2 linked regions of the Homo sapiens genome follow. The protein of the gene in region 2 interacts with the protein of the main gene of each other region in a pairwise test. Each region holds a gene or a part of one and is shown on either strand. Other genes may lie near its edges.

Evidence for each region.
Region 1: the proteins of ELF5 (region 2) and ACTR2 interact in a two-hybrid assay, tested with the Homo sapiens proteins (one large-scale study listed by BioGRID and IntAct).

What each region holds. Positions count from the first base shown.
Region 1 is NC_000002.12:65,251,742-65,255,555, reverse strand, and holds part of ACTR2 (actin-related protein 2), read right to left. Parts: intron 1,829-3,814; coding exon 1,692-1,828; intron 12-1,691; coding exon 1-11. UniProt on the Homo sapiens protein: ATP-binding component of the Arp2/3 complex, a multiprotein complex that mediates actin polymerization upon stimulation by nucleation-promoting factor (NPF).
Region 2 is NC_000011.10:34,510,864-34,515,370, reverse strand, and holds the start of ELF5 (ETS-related transcription factor Elf-5), read left to right. Parts: upstream 1-1,576; 5' UTR 1,577-1,694; intron 1,695-3,646; exon of another isoform or gene 3,647-3,801; coding exon of another isoform or gene 3,802-3,827; intron 3,828-4,507. UniProt on the Homo sapiens protein: Transcriptionally activator that may play a role in regulating the later stages of keratinocytes terminal differentiation. Isoform 2 binds to DNA sequences containing the consensus nucleotide core sequence GGA[AT].

The sequences.
Region 1 (3,814 bases), on a different chromosome or scaffold from region 2:
AACAGAAGTAGCTGGTACAAAACAATAGCAATAAGTTCATAATACATCTGAATGAGTTCTACTCTGCAAAAGCTAGTAATGCTCATTAAATATGTCACATCAATAACAAACAGAATGGGCAGTGGATCCTCAGCTCCTACTATTTCAGAAGCAGGATTTTATCCGCCATAAAAGGATTTATATTTCAGTTTCAGAGAGGGTAAAAGAATTAACAATTCATAAGTAAGTCAGTAAAATGACTAGAAAAGTCAGTTTTTGAAAAGCACTGCATGAGTACTAATGTTTTGATAGTTTTGATAAACAATCAAAAGTATATTAATGAATAAATATTATTTTAGTACTGGACTCCTGTAGCCTGCAGTTTGCTCACACAATTAATGCCATATTTATGAAATGCCCCCAAGTCTTTAAAAGTTTTATCTTTAGCTTCTAGTACTGTGTCTGGCACATATTAGAAGGACAATAGCATTTGTTTAACGAATGATAAGGGAATTATTGGGATACTCAAAGGTATAATCTCCATTGTTACATTTCTTAAATGCTAGAAAATACTACTATTTTTTTAAAAACCCACTGAGAGAAAAAAAATTACTAGACTTTACAAATAAAAAAAAAATCCTCTAATATTTGAGTCTGTGTTCTAAAGACAACCCCAGAAATTCTGTTAGTTACGCTTTGAATTTTGGCCTAAAATGAGAGTATTATAATTCTCATTAATTTAATCTCCCCTCATGAGGAGGATTACTTTAAATGAGACTGAAGGAACCCAATGTCAAGGTAAAGACAGTGCAACCCAATTTAATGCAGAGACAGGGTTTCTTAATAGCAGCACCACTGACAGACTATACATTGTTTGTTGTGCAGCCAGCCCTATTCATTATAGAATGTTCAGTAGCATTCCTGCCCAGCTCAGACAACCAAAAATGTGTCCAGAAATTGCTAATATCCCCCAGAGGACAGCACTGTCCCCTGGTGAGAACCACTGTCCTGGAGAGGATAGACTGATTATAGAATTGTGGTATAAACAATTTTCTAAATTTTATTTTAATATTAAAAATGATATATGTTAGCAAGTAGACACCTTATGTACTTTCTCCAGTAATGTTTTAAAGAAAATTATAACTAGTTATATTCAGAAATAAACTAAAATAGTAAATATTAAAAACTGCATCTATTCCATGAAAACTACTAAATATTAAAGTCTGGCGTATTTGGGCTGTTTTCCTCAAATATCATTAATTTGCTATCACTGTATTTTGTAGGAAAGGACAAGAGCAGACAACCCAACCAAGATCATGGCTTAAAACATACCTGCTCAAAGAAAGGTTTTATGGCAGAAAAGGCTGCCTGAGCTGTCCAAGAAAGTTTCAAATTAGGGGTCTCTTCTATCCTTGAAATATCTGTCTACTCACTCCTCAGGAATAACAAATATAATTATGTAATGATATAATGTACTCTCATTAGTATACAGAGATCATGTGTGTACACTTTTTTCCTTGTTTTTAATGTATCTTCTTTTTTCTTCATGTGTATAAATCTTATATGAATTTTTATATAAATAAGGGAGGTAATTGGATAATTTCTCTAGTGGTACAGATTTGCTGGAATCCTAAAACGATAGATTCAATTCTGTGTTAAGGTGGTAAACAAATTACAAAATTTAATTTCCATGATATTTTCCTTTCACTTACCTTGATAAGATATCTAGTTATATCCCTCCCAGCAATATCCAGTCTCCTGGTAAGATGAGGGAGAGAAAAGCCTTCATATACTGGGCAAATGTGAGTCACACCATCTCCAGAGTCTACCACTACACCAGTCAATAAACCTGCATAAAAGCCAGGGGGATTTAAATAAAAAGTCAAATCAGGAAAACCAAAGCCAGCGAGTTCCAAATACAGTAGGGAAGCCAAAACAGAAACGTAACCAACTAGAAGCCAGAATTTATTATTTAGTTATTTTGCAGTTTGTTTCTAATGCATAAGTATTAAAGCGAGTGTTCTCTTTTAAGACTTTTAGTCTACTATTATGTGCTGTCCAAGGAGATGAGAAGAAACAGACCCTGAGACTGAGGACTGAAAAACAGGACTTTTTTTTCCTTTTTTTTTTTGAGACAGGGTCTGGCTCTGTCACCCAGGCTGGAGGAGTACAGTGGCTCAATCTAGGCTCACTGCAATCTTCATTTCCTGGGTTCAAGTCATACCTCCCACCTTAGCCTCCTGAGCAGCTGGGACTACAGGCATGCACCACCATGCCTGGCTAATTTTTGTAATTTTTTTGTAGAGACAGAGTTTCGCCATGTTGCCCAAGCTGGTCTCGAACTCCTGGCCTCAAGTGATCTGTCTGCCTTGGCCTCTCAAACTGCTGGGGTTACAGGCGTGAGCCACCACACCCAGCAGAACACGTTCTTAAAGCTCTGTACAATTCTTTATTTTTTTCAACTTAGATAGTTTTGAATATACTACAAATAACATATACTGTGTGTTCTGGAAAAATGCCTATTGATACTAGACAGCTAGAAATCTAAGAAAAATTAAACATGGCTAGCCAAAGCATCACTTTGATTATTCACTGGAACTTATAATAAAAGGCAATGTCAGTTAAACCTCATAATAAAAGAACAGCAAAGAAGCTGCTTTGTTTCCCCTGTTTCCTCAACCTCCTGGGCTCAAGTGATCATCTCACCTCAGCCTCTCAAGTGGCTGGGATTATAGGCATGTGCAACCACACCCAGCTAATTTTACTTTTTATAGAGATAGGGATCTCACTATGTTGCCTAGGCTGGTCTCAAACTCTGGAGATACAGCAATTTGACCACCTTGGCTTCTCAAAGTGCTGGGATTACAGCCATGAGCCACCATACCTGGTCAAAAAAACTTTTTTTATTTATTTTTATTTACATATTTTTTTTGAGACAGAGTCTCACTCTGTCGCCCAGGCTGGAGTGCAATGGCACAATCTCAGCTCACTGCAACCTCTGCCTCCTGGGTTCAAGCGATTCTCCCGCCTCAGCCTCCCAAGTAGCTGGGATTACAGGCACATGCCACCATGCCCAGCTAATTTTTTGTATTTTTTTTTTAGTAGAGACGGGGTTTCACAGTGTTAGTCAGGATGGTCTCGATCTCCTGACCTCGTGATCCACCCACCTCGGCCTCCCAAAGTGCTGGGATTACAGGCGTGAGCCACCACACCCGGCCTAAAACTACCTCCTTTTTAAGTGGATATAATTCCTTGATGCAATAAGCCTCATAAAACTCATATACAGCCCTTGAATGTTGTACTCTTTTAAAAAGAAGAGGATTTCCATTGCAAAAAAGAAAAAAAAAAGGAGGAATTCACACCATCATCAATTCAAAAATACTCCCAGGAACACTGACTAATGCAAGAATTTACATTTTATTTCCCAAAGAGCCCTCCCTACCCACCTCACCTTATTTTCTACCACTTCCATCAGGTCACACACATACTGGCCTTTCTCCAAACACACTTGACCCATTTCCAGTGCCACACTCTTTTCCCACTGGATTATCCCCTGAAGTGCCTAAAAGACTCCTTGGCACATATCTGACAGGCCCAGACATTCTCAGTAAGTTCCTGTTGAATTTATAAGACCATAAAAAAAAAAAAGAGCTCTCCCAACGTGGCCAATATTTTATTTCCAATAAAGAGGGAGGCAGTTGCTAATGGCAATATCAAGAGAATATATAAGTAGTCCCCTCCATTAAACCCACCTCAAAAGTTAGAAATGCACTCCCAAATGTTTACCTTCTCCTTTTTAATCTACTATATATTTGACAGGCATGATTTTATGCTA
Region 2 (4,507 bases):
AGGCTGGTCTTGAACTCCTGACCTCATGATCTGCTTGCCTCGGCCTCCCAAAGTGCTGGGATTACAGGCATGAGCCACTGCGCCCAGCCCAAAAGACTCTTTCTAAAAACAGTATCAGAATAACATGTTTTCCCTAAAAACCTCTCCACTGAGAAGAATGTATATGTTCAGAAAGAAACACTGGTAACATTTCAGAAATCAATGACAAGATAGGCCAGTGCCCAACAATGGAAAACACAGTGTGTGGGACTATCACAGTGCACAGTCCCCTAGAAACCAAAGAGGAAGAGAAGTACAGAATTTTAAAGCTTGAAAGAGGCCCAAAGACCATGTAATCCAGTTACTTGCAAACCCTTTCTAAGGGCAGATTCTTTTGTTCAAATGAAATCTTACCCGGAAGATTTATATAAAAGCTGAGATGCTCTTATTGAGTCAGGAAGGAACGGGGTGGTCTAGAGCCTAACCCACTCTACTCCACTCCCATCCTCTCACCCGCAAAAGTCCTTGTAAGGGCTCCAGGGAGCCCCTGGGGTTCCTCAAGTCACAGTTTGAAAAAAATCACTATTTCAATCCCACTTCCTCCTTTTGCCACTGGGGAAAAATGAAGCCCAGAGAAGTCCAGGTTACCCAGCCAAGATAGGGGTCTAGGCAGTCACCTATCTTCCTTCAACAATTTTTCCATGATGACACCCCGAATCCTCTCACGAACTGCCTTTTGTTTCTGCAGACTATATGCGTATTTGTATTTGTGTGTTTGTAACCATGCCCGGTGATCCCAAGAAAACATAACAAACCAGTCCTTGCTTTCGCTTTAAAGCTTGGAGTCTGCCATTTGAATACAACATCTCGGCTGCCCAAGATGGCTAGAAGCAGAATGCAAAAAGGCACAGGGTTATAAATACCTGTCTCATAGATGACCTGGGACACTGTGCTTTGCAGCCTAAATTAGGCAGAGTTTCTGTTGTCACGAAGAAGTACTAAAAAGCGGGCAGTTCTCAGCGAGACACCTGAGAGCTGGCATCCACATGAGGAGAGGCCCCATCACTTACATTACACTCATGAAGCCCAGAGATGTTAGCTACATTTTTCTAGGTAGCACAGCTAGGAAATGATGGACACTGAATTTGAATCTAAAGGCAACTAGCTGCAAAACCTGAGGTCTTAACACTGGGCCTATAATGCTCTTCCTTCTCACCACATGGGAAAAACGGAGAAAGACATGATCTTACAAAAGCACTGGGCTCAGCCAGCCTGGGAGAGAGGCAGCGCAGACCGGCACCAGGGTGGAATCTCTGTGTTTCCCCTCCAGCTTGCACAGAGGAAAATTCCTCACCAAACGCACGATCCCCGCACAGCTCCCAGGGACAAGAATTTTCTGCTTGTTTACTGAGTCCCCTGGGCTGGGAGTGGGGGGTTGCAGGGCAGGGGTGAGCTGCGCACAAAAGCAGGATAAAGGTAAACTTTCTGCATATGAGAACCATTTCCCCCCCTCCAAGGAGCCGTGTCACACTGTATGTCACCGTCATCAAAGGGGCTGTGCGTAAACCTGAAAAACCAAACGGACCTGTCTGTAGGTGTCACTTATATCACAAGGCTACAGGTGTCTTTATTTCCACTGCACGCTGGTGCTGGGAGCGCCTGCCTTCTCTTGCCTTGAAAGCCTCCTCTTTGGACCTAGCCACCGCTGCCCTCACGTAAGCGCCTTTTCTTTGCTTTTTTGGATGAATCGTAAGGGGTGTCAGGGCTCAGAGGCTCGGCCTGGGGCCTGGGTCTGCTCGTCCATCTCCAGCTCCAGGGCCGGCACCTGCGCTGGGTGCAGTCCCAGGGCCTCCGGGAGCTGTTTGACACGGATGTGACGGCTTGCCTCAGAGAGACCTGCTTGCCTCCGCAGGCCGTGTGGCCACCAGCCCTCCTCACAGCCACCACTCCCTCTGGATCCCTTAGCTGAACCAAGGGGAATTAAGAGAACGCGCCCAGGCGCTCAGTTCTCTATCCTCCCTAAAGCTTCTTTAGGAAGGGAAGCTGGATTTTACTCAGAAAAATATTCAGCTTCAAGGAAAGCCCCCCACCTACCCTTCTCCCCTGACTGAATTCCTTTCCCCACCGGCCTGCCCACTGTCCCCCACCCCCTCGATACAGAGAACTCCCTTATTATAGTTTGGGGCATTTTCAGGAATTTGTACAAAACAGTTTTAAAAGAAACCCATTTGCCCTCTGACATCTCCCCAGAAGAGAATGCTTCCAGAAAAGCAATGGTTAGCGTTTTTCCACTGTGTTCTCAGGCCTTGTCAGACTCTGCAGTGTGTGGGGTTTCTGTGGGGTTGCCCCCTGCTGACAGCGACAGGTAGCACAAGCTCCCTCCTCAGGCTGAAGCCGGGCCTGCGTGTGGATGCCTTTTGTACGCCCGAAAGTGTGTCAGACATCACTAGGTGCAATCGCTTCATGTTACAGATGAGGAAACTGAGGCCAGAAAGGCTAGATGACTTAGGGAGGCAGCTCTGTGGTTCAGTCTAGTCCAGAGACCCAGGGAAAGGGGTGGTTTGCCCATCCGAGTGAACGCTTGATTCTGTTGTCTTCGTGTTCTCTGCAATACTGTTTTTCATAATCTAAGGTATTCTCGGGCCGGAGTTTTCAGTTTGGTCATCTCCCTTTTTCAGAAGTCACCAGAGTGGCAAATTTTTAGATACATTGTTGATGGCTGATTTTTCCCTCTAAAACAGGATTGAATATATGTATTATGCCCCGTCCTTTGCATATATCGGATTGCATGATTTAAAAAAAAAAAAATCCCCATTTTAGAGATGAGGAAACCGTAGTTCGAAGAGGGGCATGAATATTTATATACCACATCTATATGAAAAAAAGCTTAAGAATTTCAGCAGTCTGGGTAGTAAGAAATGTGCCCCACGTTCGCAGCAGCAGAGGTAGGATTTAACCCCTGATATATGTAATCCAAAACTGGTAAGCTTTGCATCGAAGCCTACAGCAAACTACATGGCATACCTTTTTGGATCTTCGCTGCACCTTCAGAAAAACAGCTACAAACAAACAAACACGCAAACTCCCTAAGCGAGCTAAAGAAAAATGAGGAATCACTTGACAAGAGGTCAGCAAATTGGTTCTCACAGTTGCTAGGGTTCCTCTCAGAAGAACAAACCCTCAAGCACCCAACCCTCAATCTTTCTTTAGCAGTAAGTGTTGAAATACTCCACTGGGTTCTCCTCAGTGGGCCCCTTCTTAGGGAGGTCCAAGGGCTGGGAAATTGACCCTCCCTTGCTCACAAGTCTTGGGACGGAGTGGACATTTGGGTATCACTGAGGCTTTAAGGAAGGAAAACCGATTTTCTTCCCAATGATACCACTCAGAGGGTGGGGTTGAGGAAGCCCAATCTTGGCCACTTTTTTCTATATTTTGCACCCTATGGCCTAGTTCTGCCCAGTGATGATTTGGCCCGTAAACAGCCAATGTGTAGATGCTTAATTGGGCCAATTTTTGGTCACATGCCCAGAGTGAAGTTGATGATCACCACCAGAGTCAGGAAGGAATTTTCCTCCTCTGGCAAACTGGCCAAGGCTGAGTGGTTTGCTCCTTCCCCTCTCTCTGGGAGGCTGAGCAGGGGTGCCGGGTTGCTCAGGCCATGGGAGCCACACCTGTTATTGCTGCCTCTGATTTGTGTGACACTGAGAAGCCCACAGGCCTGTCCCTCCAACTCGGTGGACCCTCTCTGTGTGCATTTGGTGTGTGAGCCAGCTCTGAGAAGGGTTCAGAAGCCACTGGAGGCATCTGGGGACCTCAGCTTCCATGCCATCTCTGCCTCACTCCCACAGGTACCTGCAGCCAACTTTCTCATGTGTGAAGTGAGCCCACCTGATTCCACCACCTTGTGTTAATCATTCTTGAGCTTTTCCTACTTACTAGGCAGCTAGAATGATGACTACATTTGGGGGAAACTGATTCCAGCTTCCACGGATCTATCGGTGGGCAGTGAGTGAGGGTCCAGAGTGTTTAAGGTACCCAGCTAGGCTGGGCAAAGAATATCCAGTTGTCCTGAGGTATCTACCTCCAACTGGGGTAGAAGGCAGTGGGCACAGGAGAAAAGGGAGAAGAGGAAATCAGGGAGCTTTTTCAGCACTAAAAGTTCAGTCTGTGTGTAGTGGTTGGATTTTCCTCCAATTTGGTGGACTTGCTTGACCAAAAAAATGCAAATATAATCAATGTGTATGCATATGTGTGTGAGTGCCCAGGTTTGGATGTGTTGGCTCAATCAGGTGGGTGTCTGCAGAAAGTCACAGAGTTAGGGCAGACCTTGGGGGCTGTTTTATCTGTGTTCTTGTTTAGTAGTTGAAGAACTGAGATTTGGAGAGGGGCAAGAGGCAGAATCATAACTCCAGGCCCAGGGCTCCTTCCATGATGAGCCAGCTAGTCCCTCACAAAATGAAAAGTATGTCCAGAACAGCAGGCCAAGAGACCTCCCAGCAGATCCCTGTCTGTACTGGCGCTGACACTA